3 linked regions of the Homo sapiens genome follow. The protein of the gene in region 1 interacts with the protein of each later gene in a pairwise test. Each region holds a gene or a part of one and is shown on either strand. Other genes may lie near its edges.

Evidence for each region.
Region 2: the proteins of BICD2 (region 1) and ZSCAN12 interact in binary tests that used the Homo sapiens proteins (3 or more experiments, as listed by UniProt).
Region 3: the proteins of BICD2 (region 1) and ZNF670 interact in binary tests that used the Homo sapiens proteins (3 or more experiments, as listed by UniProt).

Annotation. Positions count from the first base shown.
Region 1 is NC_000009.12:92,726,728-92,733,838, reverse strand, and holds part of BICD2 (protein bicaudal D homolog 2), read left to right. Parts: intron 1-4,602; coding exon 4,603-4,815; intron 4,816-7,111. UniProt on the Homo sapiens protein: Acts as an adapter protein linking the dynein motor complex to various cargos and converts dynein from a non-processive to a highly processive motor in the presence of dynactin.
Region 2 is NC_000006.12:28,396,704-28,403,988, reverse strand, and holds the start of ZSCAN12 (zinc finger and SCAN domain-containing protein 12), read left to right. Parts: upstream 1-4,241; 5' UTR 4,242-4,332; intron 4,333-5,222; exon of another isoform or gene 5,223-5,399; intron 5,400-5,515; 5' UTR 5,516-5,583; coding exon 5,584-5,985; intron 5,986-7,285. UniProt on the Homo sapiens protein: May be involved in transcriptional regulation.
Region 3 is NC_000001.11:247,034,074-247,040,859, reverse strand, and holds the end of ZNF670 (zinc finger protein 670), read left to right. Parts: intron 1-1,322; coding exon 1,323-1,449; intron 1,450-1,989; coding exon 1,990-2,050; intron 2,051-2,432; coding exon 2,433-3,411; 3' UTR 3,412-6,223; downstream 6,224-6,786. UniProt on the Homo sapiens protein: May be involved in transcriptional regulation.

The sequences.
Region 1 (7,111 bases):
CCCGCCGCCACGCCTGGCTAATTTTTTGTATTTTTAGTAGAGACGGGGTTTCACTGTGTTAGCCAGGATGGTCTCGATCTCCTGACCTCGTGATCTGCCCGCCTCGGCCTCCCGAAGTGCTGGGATTACAAGCATGAGCCACCGCACCCAGCCTATCTTCTGAAAGTTTTATAGTTTTAGTTCTTATATTTAGGTATTTGATTCATTTTGAGTTAATTTTTGTGTATAATGTGAGGTAGGGGTTCAGCTTCATTATTTTGCATATATGTATCTACTTGCCCCAGCATCATTTGTTGAAAAACTTTTTTTTTTTTCCTCTGTCGTCCAGGTTGGAATACAGTGGCGTGATCTCGGTTCACTGCAACCTCTGCCTCCTGGGTTCAAACCATTCTCCTGCCTCAGCCTCCCAAGAAGCTGGGATTACAGGCACCCGCCACCACGCCCAGCTAATTTTTTTTTATTTTTAGTAGAGACGAGGTTTCACTATGTTGGCCAGGCTGGTCTCGAACTCCTGACCTCGTGATCTGCCCGCCTCGACCTTCCAAAGTGCTGGGATTACAAGCATGAGCCACCGTGCCTGGCCGAAAAACTATTCTTTGACATCAAATTATTTTTGTACCCTTGCCAAAAATCAATTGACCATATATATGAGGTTTTATTTCTGGACTCTATTCTATCCCGTTGGTCTCTGTATCTATCTTTACACTAGTACCACATTGTTTTGATCACTGTAGCTTTGTATTAAGTTTTGAAATTGTGAGTTCTCTCACGTTGTTATTCCCTTTCAATATTGTTTTAGCTCTTCTAGGCCCTTTGCAATTCCATATGAATTTGAAAATCACCTTTTCCATTTCTGCTAAAAAGGCTTTGGAATTTTGGTAGGGATTGCATTGAATTTCAAGTTAATTATCTTTTAAAGAGATTTAAATAAGAAAAATAAGTACTTTATATTTGCCTATTTAATTATCATTTCTTCCATGTAGATAAAGATTTCCATATGGTATTATTTTTCTTCTGCCTGAAGGATTTTATTTAGCATATCTTTAAATACCAATGCATATCTGCTGTTGATAAATTCTTTCAGCTTTTGTATCTCTAAAGTATTTCACCTCTATTTGTGAACAGTTTTCAGTGAGTATAGCATTCTAGTTAAGTTTTTTTGTTTTGTTGTTTAAAAGATGTTGTTCCACTATCTCCTGGCTTGTTAGAGAAATCAGCTGTCATTTATCTTTGCTCCTCTTGAGTCATGTATCCTTTTTCTTCTGGCTGATTTAAATATTTTTATTATATAATTGGTTTTAAACAATTTTATATTATGCCTTGGTGTAGTTTGCTTCATATTTCTTGTGCTTGGTGTTGACAAGCTGCTGATATCTGTGGGTTTATAATTTTCATCAAATTTGGAAAATTTTCAGCTATGATTTATTTCTTCAATTACTTTTTCTATTTTCCCCTTTTTCTCCTTTGGGTACTCCAATTACTCCTTACATAAGGCTTCTTGAAATTGTGTCATACTTCATACTTCACCAATGCTCTGTTTGAGTCTTGCTTTTGTCTTTTAGCCTTTTTTTCTCTGTGTTTCATTTTGGATAGTTTGCTGTGGTTTTTCAAGTTGACTGATCTTTTCTTCTGCATTGTTTTATCTGCTGTGAATCCCATCCACTGTACTTTTCGTCTCTAGAAGTTCTATCTGGATCTTTTTCTGTCTTCCTCATTTGTGCGCCTTTGCCTGCTCAGTGGTAAGTGACGGGATGCCAGCCAGTGGACCTCACCTGTTGGGAGATGGATGTTTTTGTATTCCTTCATGTGTTCTTGAGCTTTGTTCTGGGATGTAGTTAAGTGACTTGGAATCAGATTGATCCTTTCAGGTTTTGTCTTTATGCTTTGCTCTGTGGTATCAGAGCAGATTTAATCCAGACTAATTTTTTCAGGCCCTGGGAGTGCTCCCCAGCTGCCTGTGCATCAGGAGGGCTCTCCTCTGCTGTTGGGAGCAGGTACTGTTTTTGGCTGGTATAAATGGTGGGGATTGCTTTCTCTGCCCCCTCAGTGGTCCTTCAGTGACTTCTTCAGCTCTGTGCTCCCTGGTCCTCAGTGGAGATTCTGGCCCTGTGTGCAGGTCTGCCTAGCTTGGCTGCCCTGCTGCCATCTTCCGCCATCTTCCAGTCCCTCCTTGACAGGGTCTGCCACGCCTTGCCTCAGTCTCCCATTTTTCCATGGCTGGGAAGTTCTTTTGGTGGAGGGGGCTCCTGGAACTCCCCTCCTCCTGTCTCTCACTATCTAGTGCCCATGATGTGAAAACCACTGCTTATTATTTATTTATATTCTATCATTGCCTGGTTTTTTTCTTTTTCTTTTTTTTTTTTAAGTTTTCACACAGAAGGTAGTTCTAATTTCTGCAACAATCTCATCTTGGCTGTACGCGGAAGTCTGTATCTCAGTGTGTTTGAAAAGCTGCCCAGGAGTGTTTTGGGCCCCAGGCTGGGAGCTTAAGCAGAGGAAAAGATCCAGGGCTCAGGCCAGGAGGCTAGGACTTGAATGTCGTGTCATGGCATTTAGCTGTCATACCTGGAGGAAGCTTCTGAGGTGATGTCTGCATCCCCAGCTCCAGGCTCGTGGGTGTGTTCTGAGCAGCCATGTGTGCTGGACCCTTCATTTGGGTCCCTCCTGCTTGTCAGGAGGCCCAGATGGTCTGGCGCTGCCCATGCCGCCTGCAGCCGGCGGGCCCTTCACCCAATGAGGGACTTGGGGCCTGGCTGCCACTTGGGTGGGGAGCCTGCAGCTGGGGCCAATTCCATGTCCGGTTTCCCTTCTTGTGGCCCGGGGTGGCTGGCCAGGGTGGATGAGGTGCTGTGTAGACATTATGATTTGGACCTTCCTTGGGACTAGGATAAGGAAGAACAGAGCAGAAATCACAGAGCTGACCCGATTGCCTTGAAGAAAAGCGGACATCTTCCACGTAGTGGGTGTTGTGTTGATGGGTGGGGGCAGGTGAGCAAGACCCAGCCTCCTCAGGAGTGTGGGTGCCATAGACATCTGTGCATCCGCAGCAGGAGTGTCCATGTCAATCCCGAGTCCCCCCGTGCAGTCCCATTGCCAGCACCAGTCTTCCTGCTGGGCTGTGTTGTCCTGTTAGCCTTGTTTAGGGGTGTCCCCCGCAACACCACGAGACACACACACACAACACATACATCACAGCACATGTCACCACACCTGCCATAGCACATGTGTGCTCTTCCAGGCAGGATCCTGTGATCCTCACAGTGCTGTAAGATCAATCAGTCTGTCTTCCCCTTGAGTCCCCTGTTGGTCCCATGAGAGTCTATACTCAGACTAGACCCTGGTTTCTTTTACCAGTCTCCTGTTGGGACGAAATGAGTTACTCTTTGTTTTGATTTCTTGAAATTAGAAACTGTCCTGCTCAGTAACATCCTTATTCATGGTTTTTTACATTTTCCCTATTTTCTTGGACTGAATTCTTAGATTTAATATTAAATAGTAAATGAGTGAAAAATGCTCCTTTTTCTCTTTTAGGAAAACAAAGCCATCCGCTTTCAGTCACCTCTCTCTTGATCTTGTTTTCTGCCATGAGCCAGGATTAATGTAAAAAGATAAGGTCTTCTGCAAGAGCTCTGTGGTGGAGTGGCCAGTGAGACGGGCTGCTGGGGGTGACACACTGCGGCCCGTCTGCCCTCTACCCATGGAAGCCCTGTCCTGCCACGCCAGCTATGTGGGGGTAGTGGGCAGTGGGAGGGAAGGAGAGGGATGGCACCTGCTTGGAGGCTGGGCCACTCGCCTGGGGTGTACACGATGGGAGGCTGGCTGGCCTGGATTTTGGGGCATGGACATGACACAGCTGTCGACTCTCAGGTGCGTGGGCAGGTGGGCGTCCTGGGCTAGGTGAGCACCCCTTTCTGGTTGATCTCACCCATAAGGTCTCCTCCCTGAGCCCCAAGGCCCTGCACTTCTTTGCCACGTGCAGCCCCCGCGCCCCTTGTTCCTCACCCCTCTGGAACATGCTGGTATCTTGGCTTCTGAGCCAGGAACTGGGCAGAGTGGGTGGTACACTGTGCTGGCCTCTGTCTAGTTCTTACCATCACTGCCATCCTCGGGCCTGGGGCTCTGACTGCTCAGCCCAGGTCTCTCCCAGAAGGAGTGAAGGATGAGCCAGCATCAGGCAGCAGGATGGACAGACTCCCTCTGCCTTTCATATGTGGTGGCCGGCGTGCCATCTGGAGTGGGGAGAAGGTGGGGGCTGTGTGGGAGCTCCCTCTGCCGGCCCCCAGCTGCTGTCACACATGCCCACTGTAGCTCCCTGACTCCAGCACTTGTCTTGCCAGTGCAGACACTGTTCCTCAGAGACCAGGCTTTCTCTTATTTTGGTGAAGCAGATGAACCTTGGGTGCAGCTTGTTGCATTTGCATATGTGCACACCACAGTGCACGCCACAGATGCACCTCCCAGGTCAGGGGGCCTCCCTTCAGGCCCACAGTCCCCGTTGTTGTTGCTGTTGTTCTGCAGCATGAATGTCGCCTGTGAGCTGGGTCTCTATCCTTCGGCGCCCCTGGGAGGCCCACCTCACGAGTGTCTTGTCTTCTGATGCAGGCCTTTGGACAAGCACACACAAACCACAAGAAGGTGGCTGCTGACGGAGAGAGCCGGGAGGAGAGCCTGATCCAGGAGTCGGCCTCCAAGGAGCAGTACTACGTGCGGAAGGTGCTAGAGCTGCAGACGGAGCTGAAGCAGTTGCGCAATGTCCTCACCAACACGCAGTCGGAGAATGAGCGCCTGGCCTCTGTGGCCCAGGAGCTGAAGGAGGTGAGGGGGTGAGGAGGGGCCTAGTCTGTGGCTGCAGCAGTGCCACCAGTGTCACATAGCAGGTGTGCCTGGTGGGTGGCTGGGCTGGGCTGGCCTCTGGGGACGCTGCAGCTGGCTGGTCTGTCTTGCTTTCCTGGTCTCATCCTCCACTGCACTCCACTGCCACTGTCCTCCACGTGGCAGAAGGGAGAGAGATGGACCCACAAGTTCCACTGCCTCTGGCTTGCTTCTGTCTCACTCATGAAGCGAGTCCCATGAGCAAGTCCAGAGCAGAGGAGTGGTCAGTCAGGGAGGGGTGCAGTTAGCCCCTTGTGGAGGCTAAGGGCTGATGCCCATGGGGCACTCCTCGTCATTGGACTCCCCCCTGCCCTGGGAATGTTTTGTGTCACTCAGGGCCTGCACTGTGCCCAGCTGTAATAAGAACACAAACCCCAAATATTCCATGGAGACTCGAGGTAGGGTGTGCGTGTCTGAGAATTAGGGGTGGAGACCACCGCCAGTAGCCCCAGCTGCCACACCCCTGCCTTGTTCACAGCAGAGTGCCCGCAGGGAGGGTCTGGGTGGGTGGTCCCTGGCACCAGAGCCTGTTGGAGTCCTGGGTACCCATGGACAGCCATTGGTACATGGCACAGGCTCTACATCTGGAAATGGGACTGTGGTGTCCGTCCATGAATCCGTCCAAGTCCGTGCATGACTTGTGAACATGAAGTCAGAGGAACCAGCTTGGCTCTTGGGCCCTGATAGGGGCAAAGGCCACAGGACCAGCTGCTCATGGCCCTGACACTAAGGCCCTGGAGTTGTGGAGGACTGGGGAGCCCAGGGGAACGATGTGGCCAAAGCAGGATTTGGGAAGGTTGCTGTGGTGCCTGGAACCTGTGTAGTTTGAGCCCAGCAGGAGGAGGAGAGCCAGGAGTCTCCATCCACTGGGGCAGGTGGGAGGAGAGTCTCGCTGGCTTGAACAGGAGGCTCAGGGAAGGTTGAGTGAGCACCTGAGTGTCTTTTCTCACTGACTGGCACATATTTTAATTGAGCCCTGCCAGGGCCTCGGTGTCTGTGGAACCTGAGGAAACAGTGTGAGCAAAGCCTCATTCTCCTAGAAGGCATGTGGCAGATATCAGGGGAGAGCAGTACCCCGTGCCTGTCCCTGGGGCAGGGGCATGTTCACTGTGGTGCTGAGCCAAGGGCAGGAGGAGTGTCAGGAGAGTCCTGCAGGCCTGGGTGGGGCCCTGAAGGAGGCAGGGTCCAGCTTGGGTTTGGTGGCTACACGGGGAGTGGGCTGTGGGGACAAAAGTGAGGCTGAGACGACTGTCTTGGGGGCAAGAGGGGCCAGTGCCTTCTGAGGAAGGATGAGGCCCCATCACCAAGATGGAGGTGGGATGGTCCCTGGGGACTGCAAGTGGAGCTGGAAGTTGGCACGTGAGCTGCAGTCCTCCTGGCCGTGGCCTTTGAGGGTCAGCCCCAGGTTCTCATTGGGAATGGCTGGAGGAGTGGAGCATGGGTCGGTTGAGAATGGGCTGATACTGGCTTTGCCTTTCACTGAGCCTTGGGGCCTGGGCAAGGCCTTATCTTTAGTCCTGGCCTCAGTTTCCCCATCTGTAAACCGGCAGTCTCTGAAGCCCGTTGTAGAGGATGCCCCACAGGTCTTTCACCCCACATTGTGGGAGCACTTATGGACCCTTGTTCCTGACACAGGAGCACCACCCTCTGCAGCAGATAATCTTACGGGAGGTCAGCAGGGCATAGGCCCTGAGGGTATGCAGTGATTAGGGCTGCTGCTGTTGGCTTAGCATTCCAGTACTGAAGGATGCTGCCCTCGGGGTCAGCAGCGGAGTGAGGGGTCAGAGATCGCTGAGGCCCTAGGGGCCCAGGGAGGAGCTTGGCTTAGACTCAGGGTGGGGAGTCTCAGATCCTGAAGCGGCAGTACATGATCTCATTTCCTCTCACAAGGAGCCCTCTGGTCGGTGGGAGGAGGGGCTGTGTGTATGGAGAGATGTATCCTTGGCTGCCCCAGCTGCCATCTGTCTGGCCCGTCTATTCCTGAAAAGCGTGTGCAGGTGCTGTCTCCCCAGCCCAGCACATTCTGCCCCTTCTCTCTTCCAAGAGGCCTATCTCTGGTGGCAGAGGCCAAAGAGGGCTGGGTGACCCTGCTGGCTTCAGGTAAGACTGGAAATGAGCACAGCAAGTTAAAGATGCTGCAGGTCTTGTGGGGAAGAGAGGATTTCTGTGGTTCCTGTTTGTGCTTCAGGAGGAAATCCTGAGACTCCCTGCACACCCCTCAGCCTTCCCTGTCTCTCCT
Region 2 (7,285 bases), on another chromosome or scaffold:
ATCACACACCGGGGCCTGTCGTGGGGTGGGGGGATAGGGGAAAGCATTAGGAGAAATACCTAATGTAAATGATGAATTAGTGGGTGCAGCAAACCAACATGGCACATGTATACATATGTAACAAACCTGCACGTTGTGCACATGTACCCTAGAACTTAAAGTATAATAAAAAATAAATAAATAATAAAAAAAGATAAAAAAGAAATTGTTAACTATAGCCTATAAAAAATTACCTTATACTGTATACATAATAATTTCCATAAAAATTGGAGCTATACCTGGCCTAAAATTTAGTGCAAGTCCTCAACATCAAGCTTTTTCCTAACTGGAAATTTAAATATCAACTACAAATTGAAAATTGCATGTTGACTATGTCATTGAAACGAAGGAAAGTTAATATTCTTAGGAAATAGTCTAATCAAACTGTTACAATCTGGTAAACATCTGATCTTGTTATCTATTGCTGCATAAATAGTTACTCCAAAACAGTGGACAAAAACACACCATCATGTTTTGGGCCAGGAATTTGGGGAGGACTTAGCTGAGAAATTCTTCTGTTTCATGTGGTGTCAACTAAGATCACATGCTGGTATTCATCTGGCAGTATAATTTGTCTGGAAAATCCAAGACAGCTTCACTGCCATGCCAAGTGCCTTGGCAGGGACAGCCAGAAAAGTGGGCTTAGCCGGGCTGATCTTCTCCATGTGGTCTCAGAGCTTCTTTATGTGGTCTCGGAGACACACAAAGCTCACTTTGGGGTCATCTTTTTGGCATCTTGAAGGATTCTTGCAACTCAGTCACTGGAAAGCAGGGTTGGCAGACTTCTTCCATGGTGGCTCAGGACTTCAAGAGCAATTGTTCTAAAAGACAAAAAGTGAAAGCTGCTGCTCTCCAAAGGCTCAGGCCAGAAACCACAGCATCACTTTTGCAGTATTTTATTGGTCAAATTAATGATTAACCCCACTCAGATTCAAGGGAAAGTGACATAGACCCCACATCTTGATGAGAAATGCCAAATAATTTGTAGTCATCTTTAATTTTCCACAATACCTTTATCCACCTCAGATTTAAAGTCTGAAGGAAAAATAAGCCTTTTTTTGAAATCTTTTCCCAAATAACTTTTTTCTCAATTGTCTCCATCCCCTTTCAACCTCACTAAATAAACCTGGCACAATTATGAGCTAATCAAGTTTATACATGCTTTCATTTTCACAAAGTAACAAAGTGAGCTTCCAATATTACAGTTTTACCTTTTCTCTTAGTCTTTGAGTCCTAGATCTCAACATCTGCTTTTTTTCCCTTTTAAGTGCAGTTAGAAGGCTTATCAATATATCACAGGAAGCTTTCTCCTTTTTAAATGTTAGAGTTATTTTGTTAGTAAAATGGCCAAAAAGTGTTAGTAATAATGTTAGACAAAAATTGTTTAAAATAAAGGTATTCTGGAGATCCATTTTGTCTGCTCTTTGTCTCTATATCCTTGTGTTTCTCTAGTGTCAAAAGACGGAGATTGGTTTTACTCGGAGTTCTGTCTTAAGCTCTCTTTGTGCTTAGATGCTCTTTTCTTCTGGCTACATTGCATCTGTGACAAAAAGTTGACTGTTTCACCTAGGTCCCTGGGAACTATGCCAAGTCAATCATCCTTGGTGCAAGCTGACTTTTTAAGTGAGACTTTCATATCAGCTTCTTACAGTAAGTCATGCCAAGTGGAACTTGGAAAACAACTGCATTGCAAAAATCCTTCAAGATGCCTGGAAAAGGACCCCAAAGTGAGCTTGAGGGACACTTCCAGGTTGAATTCAAGTTGTTGTCCAATAATTTCTCTGTCTGTTGTTTTCTGAGATGTTCTACGGCTTCAGGTGAGATTTGAGCCCTGGCACGGTGTGAGGAGGGATCTCTCTCTCCCTTCTCCGCAGACGCCCTGAAAGAAGAATCTATAGGGCTGGCAGTAGGGGGCAAAGGGCACTCCAGAAATCTGTCCTAGGCTGTTTTTTAGCACCACACACTTCATGAGATATCTTAATCATTTTAACCATTACTGAAAGGTGGAAGGCTCCAAAATATGGATCTCAAGCTAACTCTCTTCTCATGACTCCTAGACCCACAAATCCCTAAACCAATCCATTAACAAATAGCAACATCTACAGTGTAATGCTTCCTAGGATTTCGAACTTAACATGGCCAAGCTGTGCTCATAAATTTCTTCTCAAAATGCTACTTGTCATTTAGTGTCCCCTGTCTTGGTGGAGGGACCACCATCCTCTGACGATACCAGGCTTTTTTTTTTTTTTTTTTTGGTTCTCTTATCCCCCACATAATCAATGATGAAGCCCTGATCCATTTTTCCTCCTGAGAATTTCTCAATTTCATCCCCTCATATTTGGCATTTTAAAAATCAGGCCTCTCCTGATCTCATTTAATCTTGTGTGTGTGTCACTTCATATTTTTGTCAAAGTATCTTTGAGATGGATTTCTAGAAGTGGTATTGCAGGAACAAAGGGTAAACTTACATATATAATTTTGCTGTATAGTATTATCTTTCATACCTATGGGTTGTACCATTTTGCATTCCCACTAGAATGTTAAGAGTTTCTCCTTCCTCATGAGTAGAGCATGCTGTCAAACTTTTGTACCATTGCCAATCTGATGACTAACGGTGCCTCAGTCAGCATAGTTTTTAATTTGTATGTTCATATTTTGAGTGAAGTTGAACATATTTACAGATGTTTGAGGGCTGCTAGCATTTCTTATTCTGTCAACTATTTATTTCTTTTGGCCATTTTCTCTATTGGGTTATTGGTTATTCTCAACTTTTAGGAGCTCTTTAGGTATTTGGAAAACTAGCCCTTGCCTGTGATATGTTGCAAGCCTTTTTCTTTCCTTATTTTTTTTTGACAAGCAATACATTTTATTTTCATGTAGCCAGATTTATTATTTTTATGGGTTTTAGATTTTGAGTCATATGGTTAGATAATGTTTCCCTATTCCCACGTGTTAGAATTATTATTCATGTTTTCTTCTAATACATGTATAGGTGGATTTTTTATATTTAGATCTCAGATCCATTTAGAATTTATCTCTATTGTGATGTGTGGTGGGAAATACAAATCCAGTTTTACCTTTGCCAAACGGTTATCATCCCAGCACAACTTCTAAGTTCTTCATTTCCCTGTTGATATGTGGTGTCACCTTCATCATTTACTCAATATCCTTACATACCTGGATCCATTTCTGGTCTATTCTTTCTCTCTGTTAATACACTAAAATTATATGGGTATGTTCCAGTATCTGATAAGGTTGACCCTCACCATTTTTCTTTTTCATGGGTTTCCTGGCTATTCTTATTTCCCCACATGAATTTTATAATCAGTTTATCTAATTCCAGAACAATATTTGTTGATATTTTTGTTGGAATACTACAGTTGCATACGTATTTAGGGAGGACTGACCTCTTTGAGTCTTTCCAAGAACCTCATATCGCTTTCTGTTTGTTTAAATGTATACTTGGCCTTTTAGGAATGTTTTAAAGCTTTCCCCATAGAAGTTTTGTTCATTTCTTGTTAAGTTTATTCCTAGTTTCACTTTTTTGCTGCTCTTGTAAATATGGTCTTCTCTTCCATTATATCTCGTAACTCGTTATCATTGATTATTCACATATATGAAGGTCGTTGATTTTAGTGTGTTAACTTTATATCTTGCTATTTTACTAAATTATCCTTTTTTTATAGTTTTTCCATTGAACCGGGTTTTCTGACATATAATCATACATCAGCACATAAAAGAGAACATCAAAAGAATCGTGGATGGCGAAAGAGCCGGCAGAAACCAGCCGGCTGGCCCTTGAGAAGTCTGTGTGGAAGAAGTCCCTTCGCCACCGCTAAGCGCGGATTTGGGAAGGTCCCCCGGAGAACATCCCTTTGAGGCATCTCTAACCTCAGAGACACAGAATCCCAAAGTGAATGGAGACGCAAGGGATTTCCCTGTCTTAAGATCAGTTCTACAAGCCTCGACCACCCATCGGGTCGGGGGAAGTGTGGACAATGGCTGGGTAAAGAAGAGGAGAAGATAAACCCGTTCCATTTACCAGCGGGCCTGAAAGCCATCAACCTTCCTCTCACGTAGACGCGCGGAAACACTACCGAGTTGAAAGCCCCTTTCGCTCCCTTCCTAGAGCGGCCGCGGAAGTGCGCCCCGCGCGGGCTGGTTCTTAGACCCCCCGTGGCCGCTTCCGGCCTTTGTGGGTCACTTTTGATGGGTTCCGGGTCCCAAAAGGGTTCGAGGCCTCTTGCCTTCGCTCCGTAGGAGGGAGTTCTCTTCTGGCCCTGGGGGCCGCAGGTGAGCGATGTTGTGCTCTGTACGCTGCGAGCAGGTGGGCGGGAGATTGCTGTATTCCAGCTGCTGGGCCCCTCAGGCCCTGGCCGGTGCAGAGTGGACCCCGGTCCTCCCAAACCCAGGCGGATCCGCGGGAAGCTCTCCCTCCCCAAAGTGCGTTGGGACATTAGGATGAGGGTTTGGCTCCCAGTCTCTGCAGCAATTCCAGGCTGTAAGGCCCATACCTTCCGCGTTTGCTTCGGGCTGTGTATCCTTGGGTTCAGCGCTTACCGACATTTCTGGACAGTGGTGGGTCACAGACGCTCGCCGGCGTCCTAGGGACCCTTTCCTGGGCCTTCCTCACTTCAGATTATAATCACAGACCACGAGGTTAGAGGGAAGCCTTAAAGAGTAACCTCTTCAGCCTTCTCACTTTATAAATGAAGAATGAGGAGCAGAAAGATTAAGTCCCTGAAGAAATAAATTTACATGACTGTAGCTTTTGTGATTTCATGGTTTCCACCAGACATCTGGACATTCAAAAGATAAAAGTAACTAATCAAGGATGTCCTAACCTTTTGTTATTATTATTTACTTGATCTAAATGTTAGTTTTATTCCATTTGTCTTTCATTTAGGACCAAATGAGAATAAGTTTACCAACAAGTCTTACTCTTAAGTCCTGAAACAACTTGGCACCTTTCCTCAGTCTTTCTCTTTAAATTAGTCTAATCTTTTTTTTTTTTTTTGAGACGGAGTCTCGCTCTGTCGCCCAGGCTGGAGTGCAGTGGCGCGATCTCGGCTCACTGCAAGCTCCGCCTCCCGGGTTCACGCCATTCCCCTGCCTCAGCCTCCTGAGTAGCTGGGACTACAGGCGCCCGCCGTCACGCCCGGCTAATTTTTTTTTTTTTTTTTTTTTTGTATTTTTAGTAGAGACGGGGTTTCACCATGTTAGCCAGGATGGTCTCGATCTCCTGACCTCGTGATCCGCCCGACTCGGCCTCCCAAAGTGCTGGGATTACAGGCGTGAGCCACTGTGCCCGGCCTAAATCGGTCTAATCTTAAGTCTTTTCTATCAGAGTATTTTTCTGAGTAAGTATTGTACATTAATCCGGAGGTCAGATTTCAAAGGTCATAGTTAAGTTCTCAGAATTTGCAGTTTTACTTTATGGTGGAGTTTGTATTAATAATGATGGCTTATTCTTCAGGACTGTCCAGGAATACAGTTTCCAGGTGAGATCTTACTTGAAACACCGGTAGTTCTAGCACAGCTAAAATGGCATCTACTTGGGCTATCCAGGCCCACATGGACCAGGATGAACCTTTGGAAGTAAAGATAGAGGAAGAGAAATATACCACCAGACAGGATTGGGACCTGCGTAAAAACAACACCCATAGCAGAGAGGTCTTCCGTCAGTACTTCAGACAGTTCTGCTACCAGGAGACATCTGGTCCCCGTGAGGCTTTGAGCCGACTCCGAGAACTTTGCCATCAGTGGCTGAGGCCAGAGACCCACACCAAAGAACAGATTCTGGAGCTGCTGGTGCTGGAGCAGTTCCTGACCATCCTACCTGAGGAGCTCCAGGCCTGGGTGCAGGAGCAGCATCCAGAGAGTGGGGAGGAGGTGGTGACTGTGCTGGAGGATTTAGAGAGAGAACTGGATGAACCAGGAGAGCAGGTGAGAAAAAAGATGTGACTTCTGCTTGAGAAAACATAAATTGTGGATTTCTAGGCCAGAGTGAAGAACAGCCATTTTTTCACAAAGCATGTTTTTGACAGTTTGGTGCATCAGAAAGGGGCATGAGTTTCACGGAAAGTTGGCTAATGTGGTCCCAACTTATTTATAACTTTTCTGTGGAAGGATTTTATATTTCTCTATTAAGCTACAAAATTCTGTTTGATAAACATGCTGCTCATCTTAGAAAACTTCTAAGACAAGAGAAAGTATCAAAGAGATGACAGTAGCAGGATGGGAAGCAGTCTCTTGGAGGGGCATCACTCTGTTGCACAATACAAATAATTAAGAATTAAGGTTTTGCAGATATATCCATTGCTCTGACTCCATTACAGGGTTTTAAAATGAAGACATTAACTATTTCAGGGGAATGAGATGTGGGAGTACAATGGAAAGTTAGTGAGGAGAGCAGGGTGGGGAATCTGTGTTTCTTTGAGTAGCAGAAAGCCCAGTTAGGTTGGAAAGGTGAATTCCAAATAGCAGAGTTGAGATAGTGTCCAGGACCTTGAATCTCAACCTCTGGAATTGAGATTTTATTCTGTAGGACAGATGCCCCTAACCTTTTCTCCTTGAGTCTAAATGAGCTTTACTAATTGTAAGATGTAAAAGAGAACCAAATTATGTAGAACGTTTTTGTTTTGTTTTTAATACTAAAATGAGACAGTGGTTCTCAACCAGTGCCAATTTTGTGCACCAGAGGGCATTTGGCAATGTCTTGGGACATTTTTGGTTGTTATAACTTGGGGAGGTGCTGCTAGTATCTAGTGGATCACTCGGGGAGGTGCTGCTAGTATCTAGTGGGTAGAGAGGGCAAGGCTAATGCTAAACCTCTTAAAACACACAGGACAGCCCCAGACAACAAAGTCAGTAGAGCCAATGCTAGGAACATGTCAGTAGAGCCAATGCTGGGAAACCCCGGTATAAAGAGTTTGAAACTTAGGGAAATAATGAAACAGAAGTATAATCTAGCACTGTGATACAAAATGCAATAGAGAGGGTAGGAACATGTGGCAAAAATATCTAAGTTTGAAATAGGATCATGAGGCCAGGCACGGTGACTCATGCCTGTAATCCTAGCGCTTGGGAGGCCAAGGGAGGTGGATCACCTGAGGTCAGGAGTTCAACGCCAGCCTGGGCAACATGGTGAAACCCCGTCTCTACTAAAAATACAAAAGTCAGCCGGGTGTGGCAGGACATGCCTGTAATCCCAGGTACTTGGTAGGCTGAAGCAGGAGAATCACTT
Region 3 (6,786 bases), on another chromosome or scaffold:
GCTGGGCGTGGTGACACATGCCTGTAATCTCAGCTACTCGGGAGGCTGAGGCAGGAGAATCGCTTGAACCTGGGAGGCAGCGGAGGATGTGGTGAGCCGAGATCACGCCATTGCACTCCAGCCCGGGCAACAAGAGTAAATCTCCATCTCACCAAAAAAATAAAATAAAAAAATAAAATAAAAATAAATTCCTGCTTATTTAAAACTTTTTTCCCTTTTGGACTATTTGTTTATCTCCACATTAATACTGTCCTGAATATTATAGTTTGAAAATTCTGATACATGGTAAGGAAGCCATTGCCCTATTGTTTGGAAGACTTTGACAATTCTTAGACATTTTTTTTTTGTTAGGTTTGGAAAAGTAGTTTTCAGTTGCTAATAAAGTGTCTGTTTTGGGGATTGATGGAATTTTTTAAGGCTATTTGAAAGAGGTGATATCTTGATGACATTGAGTTTCTTCTAAGCACACGTACTATCTTTCCACTTACTCCATTGCACTTTGTTGTTATCCAATAGAAATTTTAAAATTGTTTTGTTTGTTATTAAAGATAAATTATCAGTCTTATTTACAACTGGGTTTAATTTGGTCTGGAGTAAACTACTTGCAAGCTTCCAAATATTTTCTTATTATAATCACGTTGATGCCTCATTTCTCCAGTTAACAAGTTGTAACAGCATATGAGAAATATTGTTTACCAAGAATGCTCATTAGAGACTTAATGCTCAGAGTGTTTTTCAGAGCTGATCCCCTAGGTACCACTGCAAGAATGGAGTAAAGTAGTAGGCTTTCAGAAACAAAACAAAACTGGAGTTCAGCGAATAATATATTGTTTGCATAAGATTGTTTACATATTGTGAACCACTCACTTAGGGTGATGAGATCCGTCAAAAAAATCTATTTTCTCACACCAAAAGGTCAGACTTTGTGAGCAGGTATTTCTAAGGATATGTAGTCTTAAGACTTAATACTAACTGTTATACACAACAAATAGCATGACTTCGTTATGAGAGGCCCTTAAGATAAAATCTACACATAGAAATTAGGGGTGACCTCATTTCTTACAGCACAGTTTATTCCCTGCACCTGCCAATGAGACAGGTGTTCCTACTCTGCTGTTGACTTTCTGAATAGTTTCATTTTAGCATGAAGAATGTTGAGTGGGCAGCAGTAAGTGCAGACAGAGAGTAAAGTTCTGATGACCAGGTCATGGAAGAAATGTTTGAAGTCTGCAGAATTATGTTACGATTTTATGAGATGAGTATAGATTCTTAGTACTGTCTGTCTAAGCCATCCTCCTCTCCACATATGTGCGATATTCTAGGATTCAGTGTCATTTGAAGATGTGGCTGTGGCCTTTACTCAGGAGGAGTGGGCTTTGCTGGATCCTTCTCAAAAGAATCTCTACAGAGATGTGATGCAAGAAATCTTCAGGAACCTGGCTTCTGTAGGTAAGAATAACAACACTTATTCACGTAGTTGATTACAACGCAAGTGTTTTGGCTGGGCGTGGTGGCTCACACCTGTAATCCCAGCACTTTGGGAGGCCAAGGCGGGTGAATCGCCTGAGGTCAGGAGTTCAAGACCAGCCTGGCCAACATGGTGAAACCCCATCTCTACCAAAAAAATAAAAAAATTAGCCAGGCGTGGTAGCAGGCGCCTGTAATCCCAGCTACTTGGGAGCCTGAGACAGGTTAATTGCTGGAACCTAGGAAGTGGAGGTTGCAGTGAGCCGAGATTGAGCCACTGCACTCCAGCCTGGTCAACGAAGAAACAATCTGTCTCAAAAAAAAAAAAAAAAGAAAGAAAGAAAAAAGAAAAGAAGAAGAAAACAAGTGTTTCTTGGTTATGAATGTTTCCTGATTTGGCATGTGGAAAGGGAGTACTTTGGTGAAAAAAATTAGTTATGGTCACAGTGTATAGTGAACCTTGAATCTAGCAATTTTTAAAGTTTCTAATCATTTGAATAATCTTATGGTTGTACCTTTTAGGAAACAAATCAGAAGACCAGAATATCCAAGATGACTTCAAAAATCCTGGGAGAAATCTAAGGTAATTTGCATTCACAAGAGCAAAAATGCCCCTTGAGGGAATCTTAGCATGTCATAAGTTTTTAAAACAGACAAAACAACTAAGAACCACTAGAAATTTTTTTTTTCCAGAAAAGTCTTAGCAAAAAATACACCTGAATGTAACATTGATGTTCAATATTTTCAGAATATTTTACTTGGAAACACCACCAAGATACTGTACATGTGACTATCACAATTATGATAATAATGATAATAGCTATGGGGGACCCATATCTTACAGTAATTAATTTATTTACTTTAAAACAATTTAGATATGGCAGGAAACTTGCATTTTCCATGGTATTAGTAGCAATGTAAACCATGAATAAATGTACCATTAATGATGTTTATCATTTTTACAGCAGTCATGTGGTAGAGAGACTGTTTGAAATTAAAGAAGGCAGTCAATATGGAGAAACCTTCAGCCAGGATTCAAATTTGAATCTGAATAAGAAAGTTTCTACTGGAGTAAAGCCATGTGAATGCAGTGTGTGTGGAAAAGTCTTCATATGTCATTCAGCCCTTCATAGGCACATCCTGTCTCACATTGGAAACAAACTATTTGAGTGTGAGGAATGTCCAGAGAAGTTATATCATTGCAAACAATGTGGGAAAGCCTTTATCTCTCTCACCAGTGTTGACAGACACATGGTAACACACACTAGTAATGGGCCTTATAAGGGTCCAGTGTATGAGAAGCCTTTTGATTTTCCTAGTGTATTTCAAATGCCTCAGAGCACTTACACTGGAGAGAAAACATATAAATGTAAACATTGTGATAAAGCCTTCAATTATTCAAGTTATCTTCGTGAACATGAAAGAACTCATACTGGAGAGAAACCCTATGCATGTAAGAAATGTGGTAAATCATTCACTTTTTCCAGTTCTCTTCGCCAACATGAAAGATCTCATACTGGAGAGAAACCCTATGAATGTAAGGAATGTGGCAAAGCCTTCAGTCGTTCCACTTACTTGGGAATACATGAAAGAACGCATACTGGAGAAAAACCCTATGAATGTATAAAATGTGGCAAAGCCTTTAGATGTTCCAGAGTCCTCAGAGTCCATGAAAGGACTCACAGTGGAGAAAAGCCCTATGAATGTAAACAATGTGGTAAAGCCTTCAAATATTCTAGTAACCTATGTGAGCATGAAAGAACTCACACTGGAGTGAAACCTTATGGATGTAAGGAATGTGGTAAGTCGTTTACTTCTTCCAGTGCCCTTCGAAGCCATGAAAGGACTCATACTGGAGAAAAACCCTATGAATGTAAGAAATGTGGTAAAGCCTTCAGTTGTTCCAGTTCCCTTCGAAAGCATGAAAGAGCTTATATGTGGTAAAAAACAACAACAACAAAACACCTCTGTCAATGTAAGAAGTGTGTTAAAGCTTTCAGTTATTCTAGTTTCATTAGAACACGTGAAAAAATTAAAAACTCAAATTAGAGAGAAACCCAACACATGTAAGGAAGATTAGAATGTATGCAATTTTCCTAGTTCCCTTCTAAAACTTAGAAGGACCCGTCCTGGGAAAGAACGTCATAAAATACGAAAAATGTGTTAGAACACTTTATTTTCCCAGCCGCTTTCAAATATATTTTTATCAGTGGTTCATTGTTAAAGAAGGTGTCTATACTTTAGATTTTCAGTTTTTTGCAGGGAATCATGGAGCTGAGAATTTCACAGATACTTTATAAGCCATAGTACATGAGCTTAATAGGCTGTGTTTTGTTTCTCATCAGTTAACATAATTTTTGTCTATTCATTTAAAAATTTGTTGGATCCCTAGACTAAGTTGAAATGTATTTCTAATAGTAGGCAATTTTAATTTTCATGTAGTTGTTTAATTGTTCTCTAATTAATGGACCAATGAAAAATGAGTTCATGTGTGTGTGTGTGTGTGTGTGTGTGTGTGTGTATTCTACCTTTTTATGGGAAAACTACTTTTTTGTTGTAAAGATTTTCTTCTGTTTTCTTTGCTAATAAAGAATTGTTATTAATTTGCATGTATGTGAAGTTTATATAGTCTCATGTACATTGTTATTTTCATTTTCTTTCCTTTATTCTGTCATGAGTTTTGGCTGTTACTTGCATAGTTCACTTTTTTAAAAAATGTTATGTTTTTAGAGAGGGTCTCACTTTGTCAGCTAGGCTGAAGTGTAGTGGTAATAATAGTCTTAGCTCACTGCAGCCTCAAATTCCTGGGCTCAAGTGATTCTCCCACCTTAGCCTCCTATGTAGCTGGAGCTACAGACACATGCCACCATGCTCAGCTAATTATATAATTTTAAAAATTTTTTATAGAGATGGGATCTCGCTGTATTGTCTAGGCTGGTATTGAATTCCTGGCCTCAAGCTATCCTCCTGCCTCAGCCTGTCTACATGTTGGGGTTACTGACATGAGCTACCACACCTGGCCCACTTTTTACTTTGAATTAAGAAGAGAGAACTGTGATTGGACAGTATGCTTGTCTAATCTGCGTGTGAAAGCATTCAGTCTCACCATCAAGTATATTGTGGATTTTTCATAAATATTCTCAAACAGGCTCAGGAAGTTTTCTTGTGTTTTTTATTTATTGTTTCATGGTAAAGGAGTGTTGAACTCTTATGACATGTTTTTTTCTGCATCTATTGAGATGATTTGTGGTTTTTGGCATTCTACTGATAGTCTATTACGTTAACTGGCTTTCAGATATAAATATATTATGGTTATCTGGGTGAAATTTGTCTTCATCATGGAATATAAGTATTTTATCTACAGGTTGAACATCTGTAAACCCCAGATTCCAATACCAAATCTGAAATGCTCCGAAGTCAAAAACTGTTTGAGCACCAGTCTTATGCTCAACAGAAATGCTCATTAGAGGATTTTTGATATTTGGATTAGGGATGCTCATCCAGTAAGTTTTCTGCAAATATTCCAAAATGTTAAAAGTCTGAAATCCAAAGCACTTCCGTTCCCAAGTATTTCAGATAAGAAACACTCAACCCATATTGATAACGTTCAATTTTCCAGTGTATTGTTGGGGCCTTTTGCATTTATAGTCAAATTGGTGTGCCCTAGTATACCATATAGTATAGCATCATCTGTATATATAGCATGTCTACATGTATACTTATATGTGTATAAGTAGCTATATAATATGTGGTATAGTACAGTTTTGTAAGTTACTATGAATTATGCATAACTAGTTTATATTATGTGTAATTAGCACTACAATAAATTGTATATTACAGGATTATGGCATTATAACATACTATTTTGATCTTATCAGTCTGTAGCCTAACATATTTCAGTTGCCTACCATTCCACAGATGCATTTAAACAAACCAATTGCATCCTTATGAGAACCAAGAAGCATCTCACGTTCTTGATACTACAAAGCATTCCCCTTACACCCTGTTTGTTCTATCTGCTCCGTAGTGCAAGTCTTGTGTGGACCAGCCTCGTTTACAGAACCCTCCCTTTTTTGTCTATGAATGTATGTAACTAATAACTTCTCTCAATCTTATCTGTACACTCATGGGTGTCACGTGTTTTTCCCAGTAGTCTTAGGGTCCTAATTTTTCCTGTCACCCATGAGACTGTGAAAACAATTGGCATTACCAACAGAATGAACCAACCATGACTGATGATATCTTTTCAGCTTTAACTACCTGCTTTTGTCTAACTGGTTCCATAATATAACAGAAGTCACCTGAATTAGAAACAGCAATTGATGGTGGACTTTCACTTTGGTCTACACAGTGCTTTGTGTTATCAGCTGTTGCCACCTCTTCCCACAGTAGAACTCTCAACTCCTAGACATGACTGGTTGACCAGCCGTTCCCCAGGAGGATGTATGTTCCACCTTGACCTGTGTTTGGCAGGCAGTTTCCAAGGTACCCCACATTGAGGCAGTGACCCAGCACCTTCACCACTGGGTTCTTTATTCCTGATTATCAAAAGTCAGACTACTGCTCTGTGGTAACTGCATCTCGTTTGGTTGCCATCACTGGATGCTTGGAGTAGCCATGTGAACGTTATTACTGTACACACTTGGGACAGCTCCAGGGATTTTGTGTGTGTGAAGTTGCAGAAAGGAAGAATGTCCCCATGCTGGGGAGAATTAAGCATGTCACCTAATTGTGTAACAAGATGACTTGTGCAAGACTAGTGGCCTTGAGTGTTTTCTTGTGCTGTTGCTTTTATGTGCATTCTTCTGATGAGGTGCACATCCATGGTGCCTCTTGGTCCAGGCACTGATGAGTCAAGAAAAGGGGAGGAAGCATTTGGCATTAGCCTCTTTCATTGCAGAACCTCTATCTAGTATATGGGCTTCTTTTAGCACTACTGATCAGCATGCCAAAGGCCTAACCTTGCAACCTAGATGACCTTAGTCAAAATGACCTTACTGTATGTTGCTAACACCAGCAAGATTGAGTGGCACTCACTGGAGGATTAGGTGTTCTTCAATGTGGGTTGACGGACTCCTGAACTGTTTTCTTTAACCACACAGATTGCCCACACTACCGATAAATCAAATGCTGCTACTTTGCATGAGAAGAATTAAAAGATAGTCTGAAGCAGTTTTTATAGAAAGAAGACAAAAGCAGTCATGAGTCATGCTGTGGTCCAGAAACCTAATAGCAGATGGCCAACTGGGACACTGAAATTTCTGTACTGCTACTGCCTATGTTTCTATCACAACAAATATCCTGATCCCTCACTGTTAA